Regions from separate parts of the Homo sapiens genome. Here regions 2 and 3 are each linked to region 1. The links come from fine-mapping of genetic effects on gene expression. A gene starts in region 1. Each other region holds a variant in brackets. All regions are shown on one strand. Distances are from middle to middle. Region 1 holds the start of FZD5 (frizzled class receptor 5). Region 2 overlaps PLEKHM3 (pleckstrin homology domain containing M3). Region 3 holds the start of CCNYL1 (cyclin Y like 1).

What was found. PIP is the estimated chance that this variant, and not a neighbour inherited with it, causes the effect.
Region 2: its variant is fine-mapped to the expression of FZD5 in tibial artery (GTEx, PIP above 0.99).
Region 3: its variant is fine-mapped to the expression of FZD5 in whole blood (INTERVAL, PIP 0.90).

Annotation. Positions count from the first base shown.
Region 1 is chr2:207,765,937-207,773,936 of GRCh38, reverse strand. It overlaps FZD5 (frizzled class receptor 5), which reads left to right and starts at 4,031. Exons shown (of 2, transcript NM_003468.4): 1 at 4,031-4,672; 2 at 4,943-8,000. The coding sequence starts at 5,198. The coding sequence ends at 6,955. RefSeq lists silencers at 1,199-1,674, 3,731-4,410, 4,751-4,810, 5,221-5,280, 6,787-6,846 and enhancers at 2,146-2,966, 3,131-3,180, 5,638-6,195, 6,196-6,752.
Region 2 is chr2:207,930,542-207,938,811 of GRCh38, reverse strand. It overlaps PLEKHM3 (pleckstrin homology domain containing M3), which reads left to right. Exons shown (of 8, transcript NM_001080475.3): 5 at 7,693-7,886. Among named protein-coding and RNA genes, the nearest start is that of PLEKHM3, 91 kb to the left of the region's middle. The variant G/A (reference allele first, on the strand shown) is at 3,887.
Region 3 is chr2:207,704,968-207,713,237 of GRCh38, reverse strand. CCNYL1 (cyclin Y like 1) reads right to left here and starts at 1,598. Exons shown (of 10, transcript NM_001330218.2): 1 at 1,122-1,598. The coding sequence starts at 1,341. RefSeq lists silencers at 775-934, 947-1,056, 1,477-1,926 and enhancers at 798-1,794, 2,147-2,196, 2,207-2,406. The variant G/A (reference allele first, on the strand shown) is at 4,859.

The DNA.
Region 1 (8,000 bases):
ACAAATAACAATTGTATATATTTATGATGTACCACATGATGTTCTGACATATGTATACATTCTAGAATGGGTAAATTGAGCTAATTAACATATGCATTACCTCTACATATTTTTCATTATTTTTGTGTGGTGAGAACACTTAAAATCTACTCTCTTAGCAATTTTCATTTACAGTATGTTGTTACTGAACTGTCATCATCACGGTGTGTGAAAGTTTTTGACTCCATAGACTAAATAAATAACTTCAAGCAAGTCATCAAAGTCATTATAGCACCAGTTTCTTCATCTGAGGATTAAACGACGTCTAGCACCCTGCCTAATACATGTTAAACAGCCAGCATATTTTAAAGTGCCTTCAAAATATAGACAAAAAGCAACACAATACAATACAAAAACATATACGATATAAAATGTCTTGCTCTCTCCTTTTTTTTTTTTTTTTTTTTTTTTTTAGAGATGAGGTCTCACTATATTGCCAAGGCTCGTCTTGAACTCCTGGGCCCTAGTGATCTTCCTGCCTCAGCTTCCCAAAGCGTTGAAATTACTGGCATGAGCCACCTTGCCCAGCTGAAATAAGTTTCTTTCCATAAAGTTCTCTGCTATCACTATTATTATTAGAGATCTCCAAGTAAAATTAAGATTTTGCTGTTGATGAAGAAAAGGTTTACAAACCAGTAGATAACATTGTTTTCTTCAGAACCTTTACTGGAAAAGGGTCCTGATTCAGACCCCAAGAGAGGGTTTTTGGATCTCATGCAAGAAAGAATTCCGGGCGAATCCATAGAGTAAAGTGAAAGCAAGTTTGGTAAGAAAGGGCCGAGCGAGGTGGTTCATGCTTGTAATCCAGCACCTTGAGAGTCCGACCGAGGCGGGCGGATCACTTGAGGCCAGGAGTTCCAGACCAGCCTGGTGAACATGGCGAAACCCCGACTCTACTAAAAATGCAAAAAATAGCAGGGTGTTGTGGCGTAGGCCTGTAATCCCAGCTTCCTGGGAGGCTGAGGCACAAGAATTGCTTGAACCTAGGAGGCAGAGGTTGCAGTGAGACGAGCTTGCACCCCCACTGCACTCCAGCCTGGGCGTCAGAGCAAGACTGTCAAAAAAAAAAAAAAAAAAAAAAAAAAAGAAGGAAAGGAATAAAGAATGGCTACTCCATAGACAGAGCAGCGGCATGGGCCGCCGGTTGCCCATTTTTATGGTTATTTCTTGATCATATGCTAAACAAAGGGTGGATTATTCATGAGTTTCCGGGAAAGGGGCGGGCAATTCCCGGAACTGAGGGTTCCTCCCCCTCTTAGACCATACAGGGTAACTTCCTGACGGTTGCCATGGCATCTGTAAAATGTAAACTGCTTTGGCATTGGTGGGAGTGTCTTTTAGCATGCTAATGTATTATAATTAAGTTACAATAAGCAGTGAGGACGACCAGAGGTCACTCTCCTGGCCATCTTGGTTTTGCTGGGTTTTTGCCGGCTTCTTTACTGCGCCCTGTTTTATCAGCAAGGTCTTTATGGCCTGTATCTTGTGCTGACCTCCTATCTCACCCTGTTGACTTAGAATGTCTTCACCTCCTGGGAATGCAGCCCAGTAGGTCTCAGCCTTATTTTACCCAGTCCCTATCCAAGATGGAGTCGCTCTGGTTCAAATGCCTCTGACAGAACCGTGTGAAATAACACAAATATTCTGGCTAAATTCCAGTGTGAGTGATTAACATTCTCCAACTTCAAATAATTTTTATTATTAGCCAACACTTGTCCATCCCCAGTAATACACACGTTGCATAAAGAGCACAGAATGAGATGGGCCTCCCTTGGCATGTTCATAGTCTGCACATACTTTCCACTGAGGGCTTCCCTTTCTTGCTCACTGCTATGCCCACAGCTTTTCAACTCCCACTATTTTCAACCCTGGGATGCTTCCTGACCCAGAGTGGCAAGTAATTCCAAAACACAAGAGATAAAATATGAACACCTGTAGAATTCCAGAGAAAGAAAGATGTAAGGTATATTTATTCATTTATTTAATTATGTATTTTAGAGTTGGGGGTCTTGCTATGTTGCTCAGGCTGGTCTGCAAACTCCTGGGTTCAAGCCATCCTCCCACCTCAGCCTCCCAAAGTGTTAGGATTACAGGCGTGAGCTATGGCGCCCGGCCTTTTAAACGTTTATTAATAGTTTTGATATCCGCGAAGTGATTGATATTTGTTCCTTTTTAACTTGGAGGCTGGGATTAACACACGTGTTCTTCATTATTGCCCACAAAGCGTTGTTGATACGCAGGAGGGGAGTGGCACTTCCGCAATTTATTCTTCCAACCTGTGCCAATGGGATCCAGCACAGGAGATGGACAGTAACCCGCGGTTGATCTGGATCTAGTCCAGTTAGTCCAGTCCCTATCCCTTCAAGTGTCCCCAGGCCCTCTTGCCTATTTTCGCCCTTTGCCCAGTGGAAGGAAAAGTTTGGGGAGAAGGAAAAAATTTAAACCCTCTTCCTAGGCGTGTGAATGTATTTCAAGTATGCTAAATACCTCAGTCTTCCAATCTAATTACAACACATAGAAAAGAGGCATTTTTAGGACATTTAAAACTTGTAGCATAATTGCGCAACTGAAGAGCGCCGCCGTGTCCCCGCCATCGGTGCGCCCTCCGACCCCCCGCGGCGCGCAAGTGCGCGGCTTAGCAGCAGGCAGCCGGGGACGGAAGGGCACGGGGAGGCCGGCGCCCTGCCCAGCACAGAACCCTGGGTCGGTATCGCTTCTCTCTGCGGGCGACTTCGGAACTGCCTGGGATTATAAACCTCGACCAATAAAGGACTCACATCTTTCTGGGTCTTCTAAAGGCAGAAAGAAATCCATTTTCTTGTCACAACAAGATTTTGTTAAGAGATGCAAAAGTAAAGGTCGAAGCCAGGGAGGCTGCGATAGTATGGGGGGAGGGGCGGCTACGATGGTGAGTGCCGCTGACCAACTACCTGGGTTCGAATCCCAGGGTTGCCATTTGGGCGGCTACTATGTGCCAGGTGATCGGAATACGGAGGTGAACTTGCTTGCCGAGGTCGCCCTTTCTTGGGGGAACTATGATTAGCTCGGTTGCCTTGGCCAAGTCTCAGTCTCGGTTTCTTCACCTGTAGGAAGTACCTGCCTCAGAATTGTTGTAAGGAGTGAGATCTTGTCTTAAGATGTAAACGGGCCGGGCGCGGTGGCTCACACCTGTAATCCCAGCATTTTGGGAGGCCGAGGCGGGCAGATCACGGTGTCAGGAGTTCGAGAACAGCCTTACATGGTGAAAGCCCGTCTCTACCAAAAATACAAAAATTAGCTGGGCGTGGTGGCGGGCGCCAGTAATCCCAGCTACGCAGGAGGCTGAGGCAGGATAATCGCTTGAACCCGGGAGACAGAGGTTGCAGTGAGCCGAGATCGCGCCACTGCACTCCAGCCTGGGAGACAGAACAACTCGTCTCAAAAAAAAAAAAAAAAAAAAAGGATGTAACCGATTAACACTTTGTTGGGCACACAGTAAAGGGCTCAGTAAGTATCCTCTCTTCTTTCACACAGTTCCAAGACAGCTCGGAAGGGAGACAGCCACGCCTAAGAGTGATTCCTTGAGCAGTTCTTTCAAAGAAGCACTGAACTCTGTAAGGACGCTTAGCTGCAGGCAGAAAGGGCAGGGGCCCTGGGAGCAAAGGTGCATAAGCCAGGAAGTTACAGGAGCGAGTCCTGCACCCAGGGCGCGGGCAGAGAACTCCGGAGGGACTTCTGGCAAGGGCTTCCCGCCCGGGTGCCCAGAGCGGCATGATTAGCATTCGCCCCGCCCCCATCTCCTCCAGGCCCGCGATTGGTCAGCGCTCCTTGGCTGCCCGCTCCTGGCGGGGCCAGAGGGCGCCGGGGGAAAGGCCGAGCCCGCGGGGCAGTGGGCGGGGACGCGCGGAGAGCTTGGCGAGGCGGCCCACCAACCGCGCCCGGGCCTGAGGGGGCGGAGCCGGGGCGGGGCTTCCCGGCGGGCATTAGAAGCAGGTGACCCGGGCGGGGCGGGAGAGGGCAGCCAGCCTGCGGCCGTGAGTCCGCTGTGGTCGCCGCCGCGCGCGGTTCCGTGCTCGCCAGAGGTGGGCGAAAGGGTGCGAGAGCGCGGGGGAGGAGCCGAGCAGGGCACGTCCCGAGAGCGTCGCCACCGCCCCCAGGAGTCCACTGGAGCGCGGAGCCCCCTGCAGGGGAGGAGGCGAGCGGCGGGCGGGACGCGGCGGCCGGCGCTCACCATGCAGTCCCGGCCTGGCCAGCGCCGGCTGCTCGCGGTGCTGTGAGGCGGCGGGGTCCCACGGCCCCCGCCTCCCGCCTTCCTCCCGCCCAGGTGCTGCCAGGCGCGCTCGCCCTCCGTCCGGCTCCCGGCCCCGGGGAGAACGCACGGCCTGCCCCTGCCCGGCTCCGTCTGGATCATGCGGGGGGCTCCCGAGGAGGAGAGGGCGAGTGACCGGCCTGCGCCGCCCCTGTTCTGGGGGCGCCCCCCACTCTGAGTCGCCCCCACCTGCTGCCATGTGCCGCTGCCACGGGTACCCAGCCTGTCGCTAAACTTTCCGGGCGCCAGCCCGGCTCTGAGTCGCGCTTCTCAGCGGAGTGACCCAGGGACGGAGGACCCAGGCTGGCTGGGGACTGTCTGCTCTTCTCGGCGGGATCCGTGGAGGTGAGAACCTTCCCTTTCTCCCTGTTCTTCTCCCGTTTCCTGTGCCCTTTTCCGGGAAGCTGAGGGTTCTGGTCTCCGGGCACTGCCTGAAGGGCCCAGCTTGGAAAGAGAGGGTGGGGGAGTCGGTAGTTTGGTTACAGGAGGCGGAGCGGGGAGGAAAGGAAAGGGGTTAACTTAAGAGATTTGGAGACAGCTCGCGGGGACCGAACTGTTGACGCCTCTCCAACAGGGAGTGGTTGCAATCTTTCTTCTCCCCCTTCTTTTTTAAAGAGTCCTTTCCCTGGAATCCGAGCCCTAACCGTCTCTCCCCAGCCCTATCCGGCGAGGAGCGGAGCGCTGCCAGCGGAGGCAGCGCCTTCCCGAAGCAGTTTATCTTTGGACGGTTTTCTTTAAAGGAAAAAGCAACCAACAGGTTGCCAGCCCCGGCGCCACACACGAGACGCCGGAGGGAGAAGCCCCGGCCCGGATTCCTCTGCCTGTGTGCGTCCCTCGCGGGCTGCTGGAGGCGAGGGGAGGGAGGGGGCGATGGCTCGGCCTGACCCATCCGCGCCGCCCTCGCTGTTGCTGCTGCTCCTAGCGCAGCTGGTGGGCCGGGCGGCCGCCGCGTCCAAGGCCCCGGTGTGCCAGGAAATCACGGTGCCCATGTGCCGCGGCATCGGCTACAACCTGACGCACATGCCCAACCAGTTCAACCACGACACGCAGGACGAGGCGGGCCTGGAGGTGCACCAGTTCTGGCCGCTGGTGGAGATCCAATGCTCGCCGGACCTGCGCTTCTTCCTATGCTCTATGTACACGCCCATCTGTCTGCCCGACTACCACAAGCCGCTGCCGCCCTGCCGCTCGGTGTGCGAGCGCGCCAAGGCCGGCTGCTCGCCGCTGATGCGCCAGTACGGCTTCGCCTGGCCCGAGCGCATGAGCTGCGACCGCCTCCCGGTGCTGGGCCGCGACGCCGAGGTCCTCTGCATGGATTACAACCGCAGCGAGGCCACCACGGCGCCCCCCAGGCCTTTCCCAGCCAAGCCCACCCTTCCAGGCCCGCCAGGGGCGCCGGCCTCGGGGGGCGAATGCCCCGCTGGGGGCCCGTTCGTGTGCAAGTGTCGCGAGCCCTTCGTGCCCATTCTGAAGGAGTCACACCCGCTCTACAACAAGGTGCGGACGGGCCAGGTGCCCAACTGCGCGGTACCCTGCTACCAGCCGTCCTTCAGTGCCGACGAGCGCACGTTCGCCACCTTCTGGATAGGCCTGTGGTCGGTGCTGTGCTTCATCTCCACGTCCACCACAGTGGCCACCTTCCTCATCGACATGGAACGCTTCCGCTATCCTGAGCGCCCCATCATCTTCCTGTCAGCCTGCTACCTGTGCGTGTCGCTGGGCTTCCTGGTGCGTCTGGTCGTGGGCCATGCCAGCGTGGCCTGCAGCCGCGAGCACAACCACATCCACTACGAGACCACGGGCCCTGCACTGTGCACCATCGTCTTCCTCCTGGTCTACTTCTTCGGCATGGCCAGCTCCATCTGGTGGGTCATCCTGTCGCTCACCTGGTTCCTGGCCGCCGGCATGAAGTGGGGCAACGAGGCCATCGCGGGCTACGCGCAGTACTTCCACCTGGCTGCGTGGCTCATCCCCAGCGTCAAGTCCATCACGGCACTGGCGCTGAGCTCCGTGGACGGGGACCCAGTGGCCGGCATCTGCTACGTGGGCAACCAGAACCTGAACTCGCTGCGCGGCTTCGTGCTGGGCCCGCTGGTGCTCTACCTGCTGGTGGGCACGCTCTTCCTGCTGGCGGGCTTCGTGTCGCTCTTCCGCATCCGCAGCGTCATCAAGCAGGGCGGCACCAAGACGGACAAGCTGGAGAAGCTCATGATCCGCATCGGCATCTTCACGCTGCTCTACACGGTCCCCGCCAGCATTGTGGTGGCCTGCTACCTGTACGAGCAGCACTACCGCGAGAGCTGGGAGGCGGCGCTCACCTGCGCCTGCCCGGGCCACGACACCGGCCAGCCGCGCGCCAAGCCCGAGTACTGGGTGCTCATGCTCAAGTACTTCATGTGCCTGGTGGTGGGCATCACGTCGGGCGTCTGGATCTGGTCGGGCAAGACGGTGGAGTCGTGGCGGCGTTTCACCAGCCGCTGCTGCTGCCGCCCGCGGCGCGGCCACAAGAGCGGGGGCGCCATGGCCGCAGGGGACTACCCCGAGGCGAGCGCCGCGCTCACAGGCAGGACCGGGCCGCCGGGCCCCGCCGCCACCTACCACAAGCAGGTGTCCCTGTCGCACGTGTAGGAGGCTGCCGCCGAGGGACTCGGCCGGAGAGCTGAGGGGAGGGGGGCGTTTTGTTTGGTAGTTTTGCCAAGGTCACTTCCGTTTACCTTCATGGTGCTGTTGCCCCCTCCCGCGGCGACTTGGAGAGAGGGAAGAGGGGCGTTTTCGAGGAAGAACCTGTCCCAGGTCTTCTCCAAGGGGCCCAGCTCACGTGTATTCTATTTTGCGTTTCTTACTGCCTTCTTTATGGGAACCCTCTTTTTAATTTATATGTATTTTTCTTAATTTGTAACTTTGTTGCATTTTGGCAACAATTTACCTTTGCTTTGGGGGCTTTACAATCCTAAGGTTGGCGTTGTAATGAAGTTCCACTTGGTTCAGGTTTCTTTGAACTGTGTGGTCTCAATTGGGAAAATATATTTCCTATACGTGTGTCTTTAAAAAAAAATGTGAACAGTGAACGTTTCGGTTGCTGTGACTGGGAAGTTGTTGGGTGTGCTTTTTCAGCCAGCTTCTCCTTCCACTGCTTAAAGTGTCCATGATTCTTTAAGGTGAGCTGCAGTTTATAGCCCCAGGTCATACCTAGGAGGGGAGCATAATGAGCTCAGGGCCTCCCCAAAGTGACAAGGTTAGGGAGTGCTTAGCGGTTTTGTGTTCAGCCTTAGCTTTGTTTATAGAGGGAGGTTCAGTTTCTTTTCTGTAGTGCTTGTAATAATTCTCACTCCTAACAGCACCATCGTTGTGTCTTGAATAAGTTAGAGGTAGCATTATAGAGGATCTGGCATAAATATTTGCAGTAGTGAGAGCCTAAGCGATGGTGATTGGTGGAGCTTGAATTTTAGGCTGGTGAGATGGCAGCTTTGTGCCTGAGAGGTAGTGGGTGGTTCTTAAGCTTCAGTGATCCCCTTTTTTTTTTTTTTTTTTTTTTTTTAAGGAACTTGTGTTATAATTTTGGTAAAAGTATAAACCCACTCCCTCTGGACAATACTTAGCGACAGTTGCTAAAGGGGGCTCCTTTTTAAATGTAAGGACTGAAATGGATATACTTCTAATAAGTAAATTTCCA
Region 2 (8,270 bases), 160 kb before region 1:
TTGATTTTGAGAGGATAGCTAGGCAATTGAAGATATTAGGTACACTCGCTTCATCCGTGTTGCACATGAGGAAAATCTCCTTTGTCAGACCACTCCTTCCCAAGTTCTTAGTGGACCAAGGAAGATTTTAAAGCAAAAGTGGACCTGGTGGATTTTATCTGGATCATCTCTCATTGGCATTAAGTAACTATATTCCATTTAGTCCAGTGTCTGGCTGTCTTTTCTCAGATATCAGGATTTAACTTAATTCTCCTAATTGTGAGGATCAATTCAGACCTATCAGTTTCCAAGACCAGACATCGTTCTGTTAGATCTGCCTGCTGTCCTTAATAGCAAGTACGTGACTGGCTTGAATAGCCATTTAAAAGAGTAAAAAAATGGTTTTGCAGAACAGAATGAAATCTGTCATCTTAAGCATTTCCTGGCCTGCCCTCTGGAGTATTAATAATCCTAATTATTTTTAAAGCAGGATTTCGTCTATTTTCTGGTGTTATACTGAAGATTGAATTGAGCTCCAAGATTAGGAAGCGCTAAACCCTATCCTCAATTTCTATAGCCATTTTCTAATAAAATCTCTTTGAAGATAACTTTCCCTATCCCCCTAATCAAAAATATCAAGCGTAGCAAAGAGATGTTAAGGAAATCAAACAACCCTAACTCTTCCAAATAGTTCCCCTTAGTTTTGTTTTAAAAAAATTTATTTGTATCCTAGCTTGAATATTCACATTCCATTTAGCTAGGGGTTTTCCATGTTACATAAACCATTTCCTATTTCTACATCTTGAGAGGTATTCAAGGCAAGCTCTACTGCCCTTGTGGAGCTGAGGAAAAGCTCACTGATGGGAAAAACCTCTTGATCAGAGTCATTTGGAGATTCTGAGAACAAATTGTAATTAAACTGAAGGTTTCCTAATTTCTCCTCCATTAGCCCACTGACTGTTTTAACAGGACTAAGAAGTATTACCGTTAGAATTGATTTTATTATGATTTTGGCTATGAATTTTTATGATAGAGATGGGAATAAACACAGGAAGGAAATGTTTTACCAAAGCAATAAGGTTATTTTACGGTGGTAAGATTATAGATATTTTTTCCTCTGTTGATCTTTATTCTCCAAATTTTCAGTAATGGGATTATATTACTTTTATAATTTTATAAATTTTAACTGTCATATTTTATTTAAGAAAATGTATATTAAAAGTTAACTTTTTTAATGCCTTGGAATTTTTTTTTTTTTTTTTAGAGACAGTGTCGTGCTCTGTTACCCAGGCTGGAGTGCAGTGGCATGACTGTAACTCACTGCAGCCTTGAACTCTGGCACTCAAGCATTCCTCCCACCCCAGCCTCCTGAGTAGTTGGGACTACAGGCGCACGCCACTACACCTGGCTAATTTTTAAATTAGTTTTTGGTAGAGACAAAGTCTTGCTATGTTGCCCAGGCTGGTCTCAAACTCCTGGCCTAAAGCAATCCTGCTGCCTCAGCCTCCCAAAGTGTTGGGATTATAGGCGTGAGCCACTGTGCCTGGACCAGAATTATAAATGTAAATGATTGTTCTGTCCTGTGATAGATAACTTGAGAGTTTAATGGGATAAGTGAGGCTGTTTTTCCCTAAATGCCTTGCACTGCTATATTTTATTCATTCTTCTTTTTTGAATACAGTATACTTTCAGAAAGTTCAAGGTTCAAAAAGTAAAAGGGGGCGTGCGTACATACATAAATAATCTCCTTTTTACTCACCCCATTCTTCTCAGAGGCAACCAAAACACTCCTTTCTCGTGTATCCTTCCAGAGATATTTTATGTACATGTATTTTTTCATACAAAAATGACAATATAGTATATACCCTGTGCTTAGAGAGCTTTCCATTTAGATAATAAAACTCTTCCTTGCATTTTTTAAAATATTTCATGAATTTTACATGCATATTTACACACACACACACACACACACACACACACACACACTAATTTATCTAACCAGTTCTTTTTTGGTGGACATTTAGATTTTTCCAGTCTTTTGCTATTATAGACAGTAATTCAATGAATAACTTTTTACATAATATTGAATATAATTTTTTTTCATTGATAAGCAAAACTATCTGTAGATAACTTCCTAGATATAGGCATGTACAATTTGTGAGTTTGATGGATAGTGCCAAGTTGCCCTCAATTAGGGTCGTATGCTCTTTGTTTTCACCTTGTAGCTTCCTGTAGGTGCCTCTCTTCCCCTGGTGCTAGGATGTCAGCTGTCATTTATGTTGTATCCATGCTGCCTCTAGCTATCTTTTCTTCTTTATGGACTCTAAATATGTTATGAACTTAGAAACAAATAACCAAGCTGTAGGAACTATGTCTAAAGCAAGAGTGTATGCTTCAAAGTTGTGGCCAGAGCATTGTAAATTATTCATTCATTTGTTCAACAAGTATTTATTGGATATTTATTGTGCTCACTGTTCTAGGCACTGGGGATATAGTTTCTGCCCTTATGGATGCTCTTATTCCAGTGAAAGGAGAAAGACAGTAAAAAAAATACACAAATAGACTGGGCGCAGTGGCTCGTGCCTATAATCCTAGTGCTTTTGGAGGCTGAAGCAGAAGGATTTGCTTGAGACCAGCTTGGGCAGCAGCAAGACCCTATCTCTACAAAAAATTTAAAAATTAACCAGGCCTTGTGTCATGCACACGTAGTCCTACCTAGCTACTCCAGAGGCTGAGGTGGGAGGATCCCTTGAGCTCAGAAGTTCGAAGTTACAGTGAACTATGATCATGCCACTGCATTCCAGCCAGCCTGGGTAACAGAGCAAAACCTTGTCTCTAAAATAGAATAAAATAAAATAAATTGCACAAATAAGTAACTTTTGTATAAATGAAATGTTATTGAACTTCAGTTTTATTTTAAAGTTAAAATCAAATGGGATCCTACATGTCAGTGTCCTGCTTAATTACATTATAGATTAGTCTTCATTTGTAGCCTACTTGCTGTAAGATGGAGAAGGGACAGGAAAACTCTTTTATGAAGTGATAAGCTGATAGAGTATGGTAACATTATTAAAAAATAAGAATTGTGAATATAAACAATGCTAAAAAGCACAGAGCAGAGTCTCCAGGGATCTGAGTTGTGGCTCTAATTCTACCATGACATGACCACAAATAAGTTACTTATGCTCTTTGTACTCAATTTTCTCTTCTATTAAATACAGGCAGTGGATTAGTTCAGTGTTTCTCAAAGTGTATTCCATGGAGCATTACCAAATTCTTTCGTGTTAGTAGGTGTTACGCAAAAAGGAGGGCCACAGCTAGGCCAGCTTTATGGGAATTGGAAAAGAGCCCCTCCAGAACACAGCTCAGCAAACTCACAGCTTAGCAAGAGGATGCAGCAAGGTAGAGAAAGACGCCCTTTCTTCTGGTTGGTGAGTGGGGGTCCGGGCTGGATCTTATCTCCCACACTCCCACCGCCCATGCATCATGTGCAGCACTCAACAGCTGCCCTGTCTGTAGTAAAATAGCTTTGAGAAGTGGCTGGGTTAAGCAGGTTTTCTTCGGTACAAGATGTCTCAGTTTTAATATGCAAACATGCTGTACTTTGAATCTCCAAGGAAACAAAGTGGTGTGTGGCATACATCTTATTGGACCTTAAAACGTCTTTTTTTGTGGGACTAGTGTTCCTTGGAACACAAGCTGAGAAAAATTGAATTAGATTATCTTTACTAGTCTTTGTTATTCTACAAGTCCTTCTTATTCGTGTTTTATTCTGATACATTTTCCTCCTTTAATAAAAACAAAGTCCACACTACCACCACCATAATACCATGTCGTCTCCAAATTGCTATCTATGGTTAAACATTCCCTTTGCCCCATTACGTTATCACCAGGGGCTATTTTTGTG[G/A]GGGAGCATACCAGAACACTCTCCCTCAGGATTACGCAAACCTGAACAACATTCAAGAACTTTGTTTTTAAGAAGTGGCTGTCACTAGCGTAACAAAAGTCGTATTATGTTCGAATCTATACTGATGACACTTAATAATGTTCAAATCAAGTGACATGTGTTTACTTATAAATGTATATGTGTAAATAGCAGATCTGATCATTGTTAGTTTGTAGCTAATCATAATGTGATTTTACCATTTTCTCCACCTCCTCCTGAATGTGAGGTAGGGGAGGAGGCCTCTTTCCTCTTGGATTCCTCCTTCTCATCTCTCTTGAATCATGTAGATGGCAGGGTTGTGAAGAAAGAATCAGTTCACAAACTGCAGCACAATCACTGTCACAGAGTTGAGTTCTTATAGCTTAAACTGTTCTGTTTATAAGCTACAAAAGCTATGGAAAGAAATTCGTTCATATGAATAGAAGGAATATAATTAATAAATATTAAATATTATTTGGTAAAATACTAATAGGTCAATACTAATACTAATGTGAATGGAGTGGTATCATGGAAAAGAGTGCCAGCCGAAACCATTCATTTGAGCTCATTCATCTGCACCTGACTATCAGCTGAATTTTTCTTTACATCAGAAATGGCAGCAGGCTTTTTAGGTTTTTCATAGTTTGGTTGGCAAGAAGTAGGACAGTAGCTCTTAGCTCTTAGTTGGAACATAGTCAGTGTTCACATATAATTCATGAAATATTTATATTAACAAAAAAACTTTTTCTCACATAAACTTTATCACCTAAGAATATCTTTGGCTTTTGTTCCTAAGTAACTTTTTTTTTAACATTTTTAATTCGAGTTGAGTTTGAGAGTACAATCCTCATGCCAGTGTGGAGGGTCATTTAGAACTTAGGAAATCAGTGGGGATACAATGCTCTATTTTGCAAAAATAGTAGGCCATGCCAGATTTTGAGTTCTCTCAAAAATTCCCTCACCGATTATTAGTGGCTGATTCTCAAAAATGAGTGCATGTGCTCAGCCTTGCTGCCAAAAATGGCTGAACGTGGTGGGGATTTGTTCATGTACTCAGGCAGCAGCGGTAGCGATGTGCACCATATGCCTACTGCTAGTAACAACTGGTGAAGGCAGCGCCTCCGACATGGTTGAAACGAGCTCTGTTTTTGTTTTTTGTAATTTCAGTTTATGAATACTGATGTCAGTGGCTGCTGTTCCATTTGTCTCACTGCTTTTACTTTCTCTGTAAAAGATTTTTTTCTTCCTTTCGGGCTTAAGTACCACCTGAAGAGAGAAGCCTTTTAAGGCCTGGGAGACTGGCCAGTGCCCTCTGTCGCTCTGTTCACCTACTAAAAGGTAGCATTGTTAACCTAATTCAGCAGGGCCCTGACTCCATATAAACACTGCTCAACAGAGCCAGAAAGACTAATTGAATTGTACAATACATCATTTTTCAGCAACAGTTTCAAGTGGGTTGTACTTCATTTCCCAAAACACCATCAGTCTTTTCCTCATTTTAAGATATTTAAATATCACAAATATTTAATCATGATAAATAAAATATTTAAACCCAAGTCTTTCTTTCCCACTGAACTGTGGGCTATTATACCTAAAGACAGGGCCATGTTTGTTTTATTCTCCACTGAATGCCTAATGCCTGCTACAGTATCTGGCATGTACCTGTGTCTATTAATAGATGCCTCAAAAATAAAAGTGAGGAATAACTGTTATTTCCAATCTGGTTAGATAGTTGAAGATTTTGGCTAATTCTAGGTGCCTTTTTGTGATTTTCAGAGACTGTAAACTTCTCTAATTCTGTAACTCTAACTCTGCAGGATGCTATAGGATCACACAACACAACAGGTACCTCAAAAATAATTGCTTATAAGGAAAAAAATTAGAAGTTTATTTTTTAAATGATGTATTTTTTTGCATTCCTATAAAGAACATAAACTTTGGTATAAGCTTTGCAATATAAGAAAATGATCATATTGAATTTTATGTTTATGTACGAGAAATTTATAATCAACATATAATAGCCATACATTTAATTATGACATATACATACAGAGGGGTTTTTATGTTTGTTTCTGCCTGTTGTACTCTATTCTGTCCCACATTTGTTCACCAAGTGAATTTCTGTTTATCTTCTACACCCAGATCCAAGTGCCACCTGCTTTGCCAACCCTCTCCCCACCAGGAGAGTTGATTTCTCCTTCCTCTAAGCTACCAGTGGGCCCCATCCATACCTCTTTTGTAGCAGATGACAGGGTACATGCTGCATGTTACATGTGGTTTTGTTTTAAATACTTGTCTCATACTACACAGTGAGCCACTTGAGGGAAGGAACTGTATCCTATATATCTTTATTAATATACTTCTAGCCTACCATATGAAACATAGATTTTTTTTTCTTTTTAATAAGCAAAGTTTTTTGTTTATTTTAATGTTGAATTCTAACCTTGCTCCTAGAGAGATTTTAATGGAAAGTTTTTAGAGAGGTTTTATCTTCCATAAATAGAAACTGAGCCAACTTTCTATGTATTAGTAGCCAATCTACATCTCACTGTCAGTGATTGGTATGTAGAGATTCTGAAAAATTACCCTCATGTTATGCATTATTTAAGCCACTCCCTCTGTATCTCTGAGACATTGTGTTTCCATGTACTATTTGTTTCTACTGATGACAATGACATTATAAAATGAACTTTCATAGTCTTGTGGATTACCGTGGATTACCACTCAAGGTGAATACAGAATTGGATGGATATATTGGCTGGAGTTAGCTGAAGTTCAAAGTTGTAATAAGAGCAACTCCTTTCTGGTCACTGAAGCAGTATATTTGAGCTTGTTTGCTAGTCAGTCAGATTATTCTGCAAATAATATCCTTTTATCCTTTTTGAATGTTGTAATATGTACATGATTTAGTCTTTTTATTTGTTTGTTTGTTTGTTAGATGGAGTCTCGCTCTGTTGCCCAGGCTGGAGTGCAGTGGCATGATCTGGGCACACTGCAACCCCCGCCTTCTGAGTTCAAGCAATTCTCCCGCCTTAACCTCCCAAGTAGCTGGGATTACAGGCATGTGCCACCACGCCTGGCTAATTTCTGTATTTTTAGTAGAGACGGGGTTTCGCCATGTCGGCCAGGCTGGTCTCAAATTCCTGACCTCAAGTGATCTGCCCGCCTCAGCCTCCCAAAGTGCTGTGATTACAGGCATGAGCCACCACACCCGGCCTTGATTTACCTATTTTTTAAGTGGCTACTTTTCAAAAGTGTTATGGAATATTCATACATATATATGCACATATAAATTTATGACGTTTTTAAAAATCAGCATTTGTGTTAAAACAGTCTTCTTAATTCCTTTTTTATTTTGAAATAATTGTGGATTCACAGGAAATTGCATAGACAATTCAGAGAGGTTCTGTGTACCTTTCACAGTTTCCTCCCTTGGCTACATCTTAGGCAACTAAGGTCCAATATCAAAAACAAAAACAGCAAGTTGACATTGGTATAATAAGTCAGTATAACGGCACCATACTGTGCCGTTCTGTCACATGTGTAGGTTCCTGTAATCACCACTGCAGTCAAGATACAGAATTAATAAATTCCTTCCTAGCTTACAGTTGAATGTCTGGAAGAGAGAGAAGTCAAAATTTACATTTAATTCAACTACAGACTTTTTCATTTGTCTGTATTGAGAAAATAATCGTGTTCCTTTGATATTTCAGCTATGGTTCCTAGTTTGAGCAGGTGTGGAGAGCCAGGTGCTTCTCCAGGACTGACTGACGACGCTTGTTTTGTAGGTGTCGAAGCAGGCCAAGGAGTTTCTGGAGTACGTGTACGAAGAGCCGCTCATCGACATCCAGCAGGAGAACGCCATGCTGTACCACCACGCAGAGCCGCTGGCCGCCGTGCTGCGGCTGCGGCAGCGGCTGAAGTCGCTCCGAGCCTATTTGTTCAGCTGCCGGGCAGCGGTGGCAGAGGATCTCCGCCGCAGGTAAGAGTCATAAATCTCAGACGGCTCCCGTTTGTTTTTCTTTCCCGCCCACGGAGGGTGGTGAGATTATCTCCAAAGGGCCTTTCCAGCACGGACCGCCTCTAATTTTGTGGCTCGCCCTCCGCCTCTCCACTGCCAGCCTCTCTCTGGGCTCATCTTTTTACTTTTTTTACTCCAAGGTCCCCATTTGGTTAAGCCAAGCAAAATGAAAATAACATTCACCGTTACTGAAGGCTTTCACCCATGGATCGAGTGCCCAGGACGGTGAAGGCTTCTCTTACCAATATGTTAATTTGAGATAATAATCATGGAAATATCTATATTGGTCACTTATGTAGTATTTTATACTTTTCCCAATTTCAATTCCTGTTTCTCATCAGCAAA
Region 3 (8,270 bases), 61 kb after region 1:
TCTTTTAGAACAAGGAGGTATTGAAGTCTGTTAAGTCACCGGAGAATGGCTGGAGATGTATTTGCCACCGTGGGAATTTTAAAGTAATCAGAACTCCGTGGCTAAACTCCTTTGAGTTAACAACCTCTGGGCGCGGTGGCTCACGCCTGTAATCCCAGCACTTTGGGAGGCCGAGGCGGGCGGATCAAGAACTCTGGAGTTAGAGACCAGCCTGACCAACATGGTGAAACCCCGTCTCTACTAAAAATTCAAAAATTAGCTGGGCGTGGTGGCGCACGCCTGTAATCCCAGCTACTCGGGAGGCTGAGGCAGAGGAATCGCTTGAAACCGAGAGGCGGAGGTTGCAGCGAGCCGAGATCGCGCCACTGCACTCCAGCCTGGGCGGGCGACAAAACGAGATTCCGTCTCAAAAAAACAACTTGTCTGCACCCCTGGTAATAACCTCTCACACCCTTCACAGTCATTTTACGCCCCTCCCCCCATTTTCTTTCTTTCTGTGTTCAAATTATAGTTGGAAGGAATAAAGCAGCTTCTTTCACGCCGACTTAACCTATTAGGAATACCATATAGTGTCTCCTATGGCAACCTCTATTTTGAGTCTAGATAAGAAATCCTCAAACATCTGGGTCTAAACTGTCGCGGGCATCAGCTATCTTCACGGATGGGAGGAAGGAACAATCAGACCCTTACCTGGTTCCTTCACTTAGGTACCATCTGGATGGGTTAAGGGAGGGAATGGGATGAGTACTCCGAAGTTGAGGTATTTGAGTTTCCATTGAGAAAAGGAAAACAATATACCCCAAAAGTCTTAGCAAAGTCCCACCAGACAATGAACAGAGCTACAAACAAGAAGGGCGGCGGACTAGAGGGTCCCACGCCGGCTTGGGAGAATGGGAAGCGGGAGCAAGAACTGGGCGTTACGGTAAGGAGGAGGAAAAGAAACTGGCCAGACGCAGCAGGGCAAGAATAAGGGGTGGGGACGCGAGGCAGAACCAGCCTTCGTCCCGGGGCCGGCTACCGGCAGGAAGGAGCCCGAGGCGGCGGATGCCTCCCGGGGGACTCTGGGGGAGGAGGCGGGCAGAGGTGAGCCCGAGGGCGGATGGCATCCGCCGCCTCCTTACCTTCGGGCATCTCGCGGTCGCTGATGTGCTGCAGGTGGTGGCCCTCGCCCTCTCCGAAATCCAACTCGGCAGGCTCCACCACAGCGGGCGCTACCGCCACCGCGTCCCCGGACACCGCCTCGTAGATGTCGGACGCGCAGTACAGCTCCGCCGACCCCGCGCGCCGGCCCAGCTTGGGGCTGGCATTGGGGGACACGCAACAGGTCAGCGTGTTCCCCATGGGAAGCCTCCGCTCCTCTCTGCCACCGCCTTCGCTCGCCCCCTACTCCGCCGCCCTCAACAGCCGCCCCCTCCCCCAACAATGGCGCGGCCGGCACCGGCAGCCCCGGGCTACGCTGGGGCTGCACCGCGCAAGCAGACGCCGCCTCGCCCGCGGTTCGCCCGCCCGCCCCGCGGCCCGGCCCCGGGCAGGGCTCGGGCCTCGGCCGCACCCCCACCGCCGCGCTGCCGCCGCCTCCCTTAAGCTGACTCGTCTGCGAGGGCGGTGACCAGCCCGGCTTATTTAAAAGGGGTGGGGAACCCAACAAGCGCTGTGAAGCACAGCCACTGCCGGGAGAGAGCGCGGCTGGAGCTCCTCCTCCTTCCGCCGCCGCCTACCGACTGAAGGCCGCTGGCCCTGGCCGGTGCCTGCCAACCGGAACGCGACCTGCGGTCACCTGGTTAGGAGGAACCAATCATGGTCAGAGTTCCCCCTCCGGCGCCCGCCTCGAAGCCAGGCACGTGACCTGCTGCCCCGCCCCCGCCTGGCAGCTGCCCAGCCCCTCACGCCGCTATCCCAGACTCGGGTTTTCATTCATCGCTGGCTGCTGGGAGCTTTCCGGTCCTACTGGAAGCGCACGGGCATTTGTAACTGGAAGCTGTGTCAATGATCTCTGTAGAAAGCCGTTATTAGTAAAGAGTTCGCTCCATTAGCAACTCTTCTTCCGAGTCTGACAGCTTTCGTTTGCTCACTAAACTTGGTTACACCCAAATTGTTAACTGTTTTTGTAACTCAGTGCTCCGCTCCTGTCTTCCAATGAGCGTTAGTTTTCACCTGCAACGTGATCATAGCAACCCTGGGGCCCTGGTCCTACTCTCCATAAAGAGTTGTGGCTGTGGGTCTTGAATGAGACTCGAGGACACGTCACCCTTCCACTTCCTCATCCATAAAATAGGGACCTAACTCGTCCCTGCCAACTCTGAAATGCTGGGACTCGCCAACTCCCTTTTCTTGCCTGTTTCTCTCCTCTAGGCAGGGACTTCCAGGTTTCTCTTCTTGTACTAAAAACAGCACAGAAAGCACGATTTTCTCACGCAAAACTGAGAACCATGCAGTGGGGCACCACAGTCTTGATTCCATGAAGATGAATAGTTACCATTTGGCAAGCACTATGTGCCAGACAGTGTTCCAACTGTGGTATATTTATTTAACCCTTAAAAACAATCCCGGCCGGGCGCGGTGGCTCATGCCTGTAATCCCAACACTTTGGGAGGCCGAGGCGGGCGGATCACCAGGTCAGGAGATCCAGACCATCCTGGCTAACACGGTGAAATCCCGTCTCTACTAAAAATACAAAAAATTAGCCGGGCATGGTGGCACGCGCCCGTATTCCCAGCTACTCGGGAGGCTGAGGCAGGAGAATCACTTGAACCCGGGAGGCAGAGGTTGCCGTAAGCCGAGATCGCGCCATTGCACTCCAGCCTGGGCGACCTAGGCTCCGTTTCAAAAAAATAAAACATAAAAATAAAAATAAATAAACAAATATATATATATACACACAATGTCACTTCCTCCCTAAGCTTGATTTCTACCTTTATTTTCTGATCATCATGATCAGGGACCCTCACCCTGAGCAGTCATGTAAGCTTGCGGAAGTAACTTAACTTCTGCGTCCCAATTTCTTCTATAAAACCTGCAAAATGGGATTGTTTTTTTTTTGTTTTTTTTTTTTTGAGACGGAGTTTTGCTCTTGTTGGGCGCGGTGGCTCACGTCTGTAATCCCAGCACTTAGAGAGGCAGAGGCGGGTGAATTGCTTGAGGTCAGGAGTTCAAGACCAGCCTGACCAACATGGAGAAACCCCGTCTCTACTAAAAACACAAAAATTAGCCAGGCATGGTGGCGTCCACCCATAGTCCCAGCTACTAGGGAGGCTGAGGCAGGAGAATCTCCTGAACCTGGGAGGCAGAGATTGCAGTGAGCCAAGATCAGTCCACTGCACTCCAGCCTGGGCGACAGAGCAAGACTCCGTCTCAAAGAAAAAAAAAATTGTCTGAAACCCTAGGAATGTCATTAGATACCATTTTGGATGATTCTTGTAGACTTGAGACGATGCCTATTTTAAGGTACAAAATAATGCCTGCATTTAACAACAGACATACACAAAAATAGATATCTACGACCTTGAAAACTGAAGAATTTAAAACTTGCTAACCAGGAAGATATTGGGAAGCATTGTTACGGAAATAGATTTTAAAACATTTTGAATGAAGGGAATATTAGAGAGAATTAAGAAAAAAAAATTCTGTAACAGTGGCAAGCCTGGGAGAGCAAAGGGAAGCAAGTAGGAGGAATGTGCTTTGAATTAAGCAAGAGTTTGATTCTGTGAAAGAAGCTGAGACTTTATATAGGTCCAGAGTTAACTCATACGTTCACTATCCATTCAATACCTGAGCTCTTAGCACATGTCACATACTTTTTAAGTGCTGGGGATGTTGCTTTCACCAAGATAAAAAAAGGCTCCTGTTCCTGCAAAACTTCCAGTAAGGGAGTCAACAGACAACATTGGCCATCACCTCCACCTTCATGGCCTAGGATGGCTATTGATCTCCAGCTATTGGGTCTTCATTCCAGACAGCAGGGTGGAGGAAGGAAAAAGAAAGAAAAAATTTGGGGGCCGGGCATGGTGGCTCACACCTGTAATCCCAGCACTTTGGGAGGTTGAGCGGGGGGTGGATCACCTGAGGTCAGGAGATCGAGACCAGCCTGGCCAACGTGGCAAAACCCTGTCTCCATTAAAAACACAAAAAAAAAGGCTGGGCACGGTGGCTCACACCTGTAATCCCAGCATTTTGGGAGGTCCGAGGCAAGCGGATCATGAGGTCAGGAGTTCAAGACCAGCCTGGCAAACATGATCAAACCTTGTCTGTACTAAAAATACAAAAATTAGCTGGGCATGGTGGTGCCTGCCTATAATTCCAGCTACTCAGGAGGCTGAGGCAGGAGAATTGCTTGAACCAGGACCATGGAGGCGGAGGATGCAGTGAGCCAAGATCACACCTCTGCACTCTAGCCTGGGCTGCATAGCAAAACTCCGTCTCCAAAAAAAATGCAAAAAAATTAGCCGGACATGGTGGCAGCTGTAGTCCCAGCTACTCGGGAGGCTGAGGCAGGAGAATCACTTGAACCCAGGAGGTGGAAGTTGCAGCAAGCCAAGATGGTGCCACTGCACTCCAGCCTGGGTGACAGAGTGAGACTCTGTCTCAAAAAAAAAAAAAAAAAAGAGAAAAGAAAGAAAAAATTTTGGAAGGCCCATATAGCACAGTGCTTACAAATCATTGGCTTAAAGCTTAGTCACATAGCCATACCTAGCTGCAGGGAAGGCTCAAAAAAAAAAAACAATAGTCATATAGCTAGGGTGACTAATACAAAAGGAAGAAACGGATATTGGAAGGCAACTAGCACTCTCTGCCACATTCTGTAAGGAAAAATTAAGGAAGTTTCTGTTTAAAACCAGAATAACAACAGGCCTGGCATGGT[G/A]GCTCATGCCTGTAATCCCAGCTCTTTGGGAGGCCAAGGCGGGTGGATCACAAGGTCAAGAGTTTGAGACCAGCTTGGCCAGCATGGTGATATCCCGTCTCTATTAAAAATACAAAAAAATTAGCTGAGCATGGTGGCACGTGCCTGTAGTCCCAGCTACTTGGGAGGCTGAGGCAGGAGAATTGCTTGAGCCCAGGAGGCGGAGGTTGCAATAAGCCAAGATCACACCATTGCACTCCAGCCTGGGCAACAGAGAGAGACTCCGTCTCAAAAAAAAAAAAAAAAAAAAAAAAAAGCGAGAAAGAATAATAGCAATAAAATTTCATAGCCCTTTGCAAGAGTATGTGAAAAACAAGGAATTTGTAATGATCTTTTCTTAAGCTAAGAAGACAGAAAAAGTACAGAGAGGATTAAACTATAGAATGAGACTTTAGGTTAGATGCAAGAACAATTTTATGACAGTCAAGAGATCAGGAATATACAGTTTATTGTGTGTGTGTTGTGACTAATTGGTTCCATCTCAGGTATCATAACTAGTTGTTCTAATATAATAGGATTTTGTGTGTAAGTCATATATACATTTTTTTTCTCAGCAGAGGGTCTATAGTTTTCATCATACCCTCAAAGGTAGCTCTTGGCAAAAATTTTAAGAATTACTGTTATGCCTAATATGATGTGGAACAGCTCAACTTCTCTCATTCCTGATTTCAAAAAATTCCAATCTGGATTTTTCAGTAAATTCGTCATACGATGGTGCTGGTACCTCTAATTTAGTAAACTGCCCTTCTTCCACTTATCTCTTCACTTATCTCTTTTCACTCCTTCTGAACTATTCCCCTGCCTTCTCTCTTCTACACCATGTAGATTTGTTTCTGCCAAGTGAGTCAGTTGAGATGAGAAAGCTAATTTATGAGAAATGATGCTCTGAAAAAAAAAACGAGAAGGGTGTTAGTTTGCCATATCACCAGGGCAGATAATGCTCATTGGACAGGTCAGTTCTTGCCCCAAATTTTCACTGTGATTACAGTTCCAAACATCAGGGTATTTTATGAGACAAATTCTAGGAAGGGCTTGCAGTTTTAAGAGAGACTAGGAGCTTCCTTTTGCCTTCCTGGGCTCTTTTCTCCTCCTTATAAACTGGTGTATTTGCTTCCAGTTTCATTTGCCTAGGTGCTGCAAAAGGTCTAAAATCTTACCCAGCCTTTTCAGCCCACTGCTAGACTTCCTCAGATCACCTCCTAGTGGGGGTGGAAGATCCTTTTTTTTTTTTTTTCCGGAAGTGTCTGTTCAGGCTCCTGGTTTTCTAAGCAAATGCCTGCTCCACTCCCAGTTCCAATGACTATAACAACATGTTGTTTGCAGTTACTTAGTTTTATAAGAGAGCTGCCATCTACACTTGCTCAGGAAATAAACTTACTACAAAATTAATCTGGGAACAACACAAGTATAAATAAATAAACTAGCCAGGTCTGGTGGCTCATGCCTGTAATCCCAGCACTTTGAGAGGCCGAGGCGGCGGACCACCTGAGGTCAGGAGTTTGAGACCAGCCTGGCCATCATGGAGAAACCCCATCTCTACTAAAAATACAGAAATTACCTGGACATGGTGGTAGACGCCTGTAATTCCAGCTGAGGCAGGAGAATCTCTTGAACTCGGGAGGCGGAGTTCAAGTGAGCCAAGATAGCGCCACTGCACTTTAGCCTGGGGGACAGAGCAAAAATTTTTTTTTTTTGAGACAGGGTTTTGCTCTTGTTGCCCAGACTGGAGTGCAATGGCACGATCTCGGCTCACTGCAACCTCCGCCTCCCAGGTTCAAGCGATTCTCCTGCCTCAGCCTCCTGAGTAGCTGGGATTACAGGCATGTGCCACCATACCCGGCTAATTTTTTGTATTTTTTTAGTAGAGACGGGGTTTCACCATGTTGGCCAGGCTGGTCTCGAACCCCTGACCTCAGGTGATCCACCCACCTCAGCCTCCCAAAGTGCTGGGATTATAGGCGTGAGCCACTACACCCGGCCAGCTGGAACCATTTTCTTGCAATGGCTTAACACATTCCCACCAGGTTATTCTAGTAGCCTTTTTGACAGGTACCTTCTCAAATCAAGCTGACATTAGAAAGACAAAACTGGAGGAGGAGGAGGAATTGCATTAAACTTGACAGCAGGGAAAAGTTTGAGGAAGTCTTTTGAACCAGATTTGTCCCCTAGAAACAAAGCTCATAGATTTTAGGACGTCATCTTTTTCTCATGATGGCTCTATTGCCCTATTGTTAAGACAACTCTATTTTTATCCTCACAGCATGCAGTCTACCCTTAAGTACCTCTAGAAATTTTCTATCAGAAGGGATTAGGACAGCAATCTGGATGGATATAGGGCCCAGGAAACTAGTCTTAAGCGATATGTTTGTATAGAAAGCACATTAAAACAAATGAACAAACAAAATACCTACTTAGATTGAATTTTATTGGGAATAGGTCCTTGTCTCCTGTGCTGAGCAGACCTTGCTTCTATAGGGTGCTTGTTTGATGAGTCTACATTGAATAATGCCACACACTCCATGAGCTGTTTCTTTTCAACACACAGATGAAATAGAATACATTTTTTTTTTTGGATGGAGTCTCACTCTGTCGCCCAGGCTGGAGTACAATGGCACAATCTTGGCTCATTGCAACCTCCGCCTCCTGGGTTCAAGCAATTCTCTTGCCTCAGCCTCCCGAGTAGCTGGGACTACAGGTGTGTGCCACCACGCCCAGCTAACTTTTTTGTACTTTTTAGTAGAGATGGGGTTTCACCATATTGGTCAGGCTCGTCTCGAACTCCTGACCTCAATTGATCCACGCACCTCTGCCTCCCAAAGTGCTGGAATTACAGGCATGAGCCACCGCACCCGGCCATGAATGCTCTTATTAAAAAAAAATTCTGCCCAGCACTTTGGGAGGCCGAGGCGGGCGGATCACAAGGTCAGGAGATCGAGACCATCCTGGCTAACACGGTGAAACCCCGTCTCTACTAAAAAGTACAAAAAATTAGCTGGGCGCAGTGGTGGGCGCCTGTAGTCCCAGCTACTCGGGAGGCTGAGGCAGGAGAATGGCGTGAACCTGGGAGGCGGAGCTTGCAGTGAGCCAAGATCGCGCCACTGCACTCCAGCCTGGGTGACAGAGCGAGACTCTGTCTCAAAAAAAAAAAAAAAAAAAAAAATTCTGGTTATGTAATCAATGCTTTGCTCAGGAAAGAAAAAGAAAAACTCTGAGCTCACAGGAGCAATTGAAGCTAGAGTGTCCAAACTGGACCTGTCCTGTTCTTTGCAGCCATAGTGTTAGCTTCAAGATCTAAAGAGTTGGGAACTCAGTAGCTGCCCTGCTCTGGCCATCTGATAAACCTCTATTCAGTCTTTGAGCCTCAGAGTGCCTA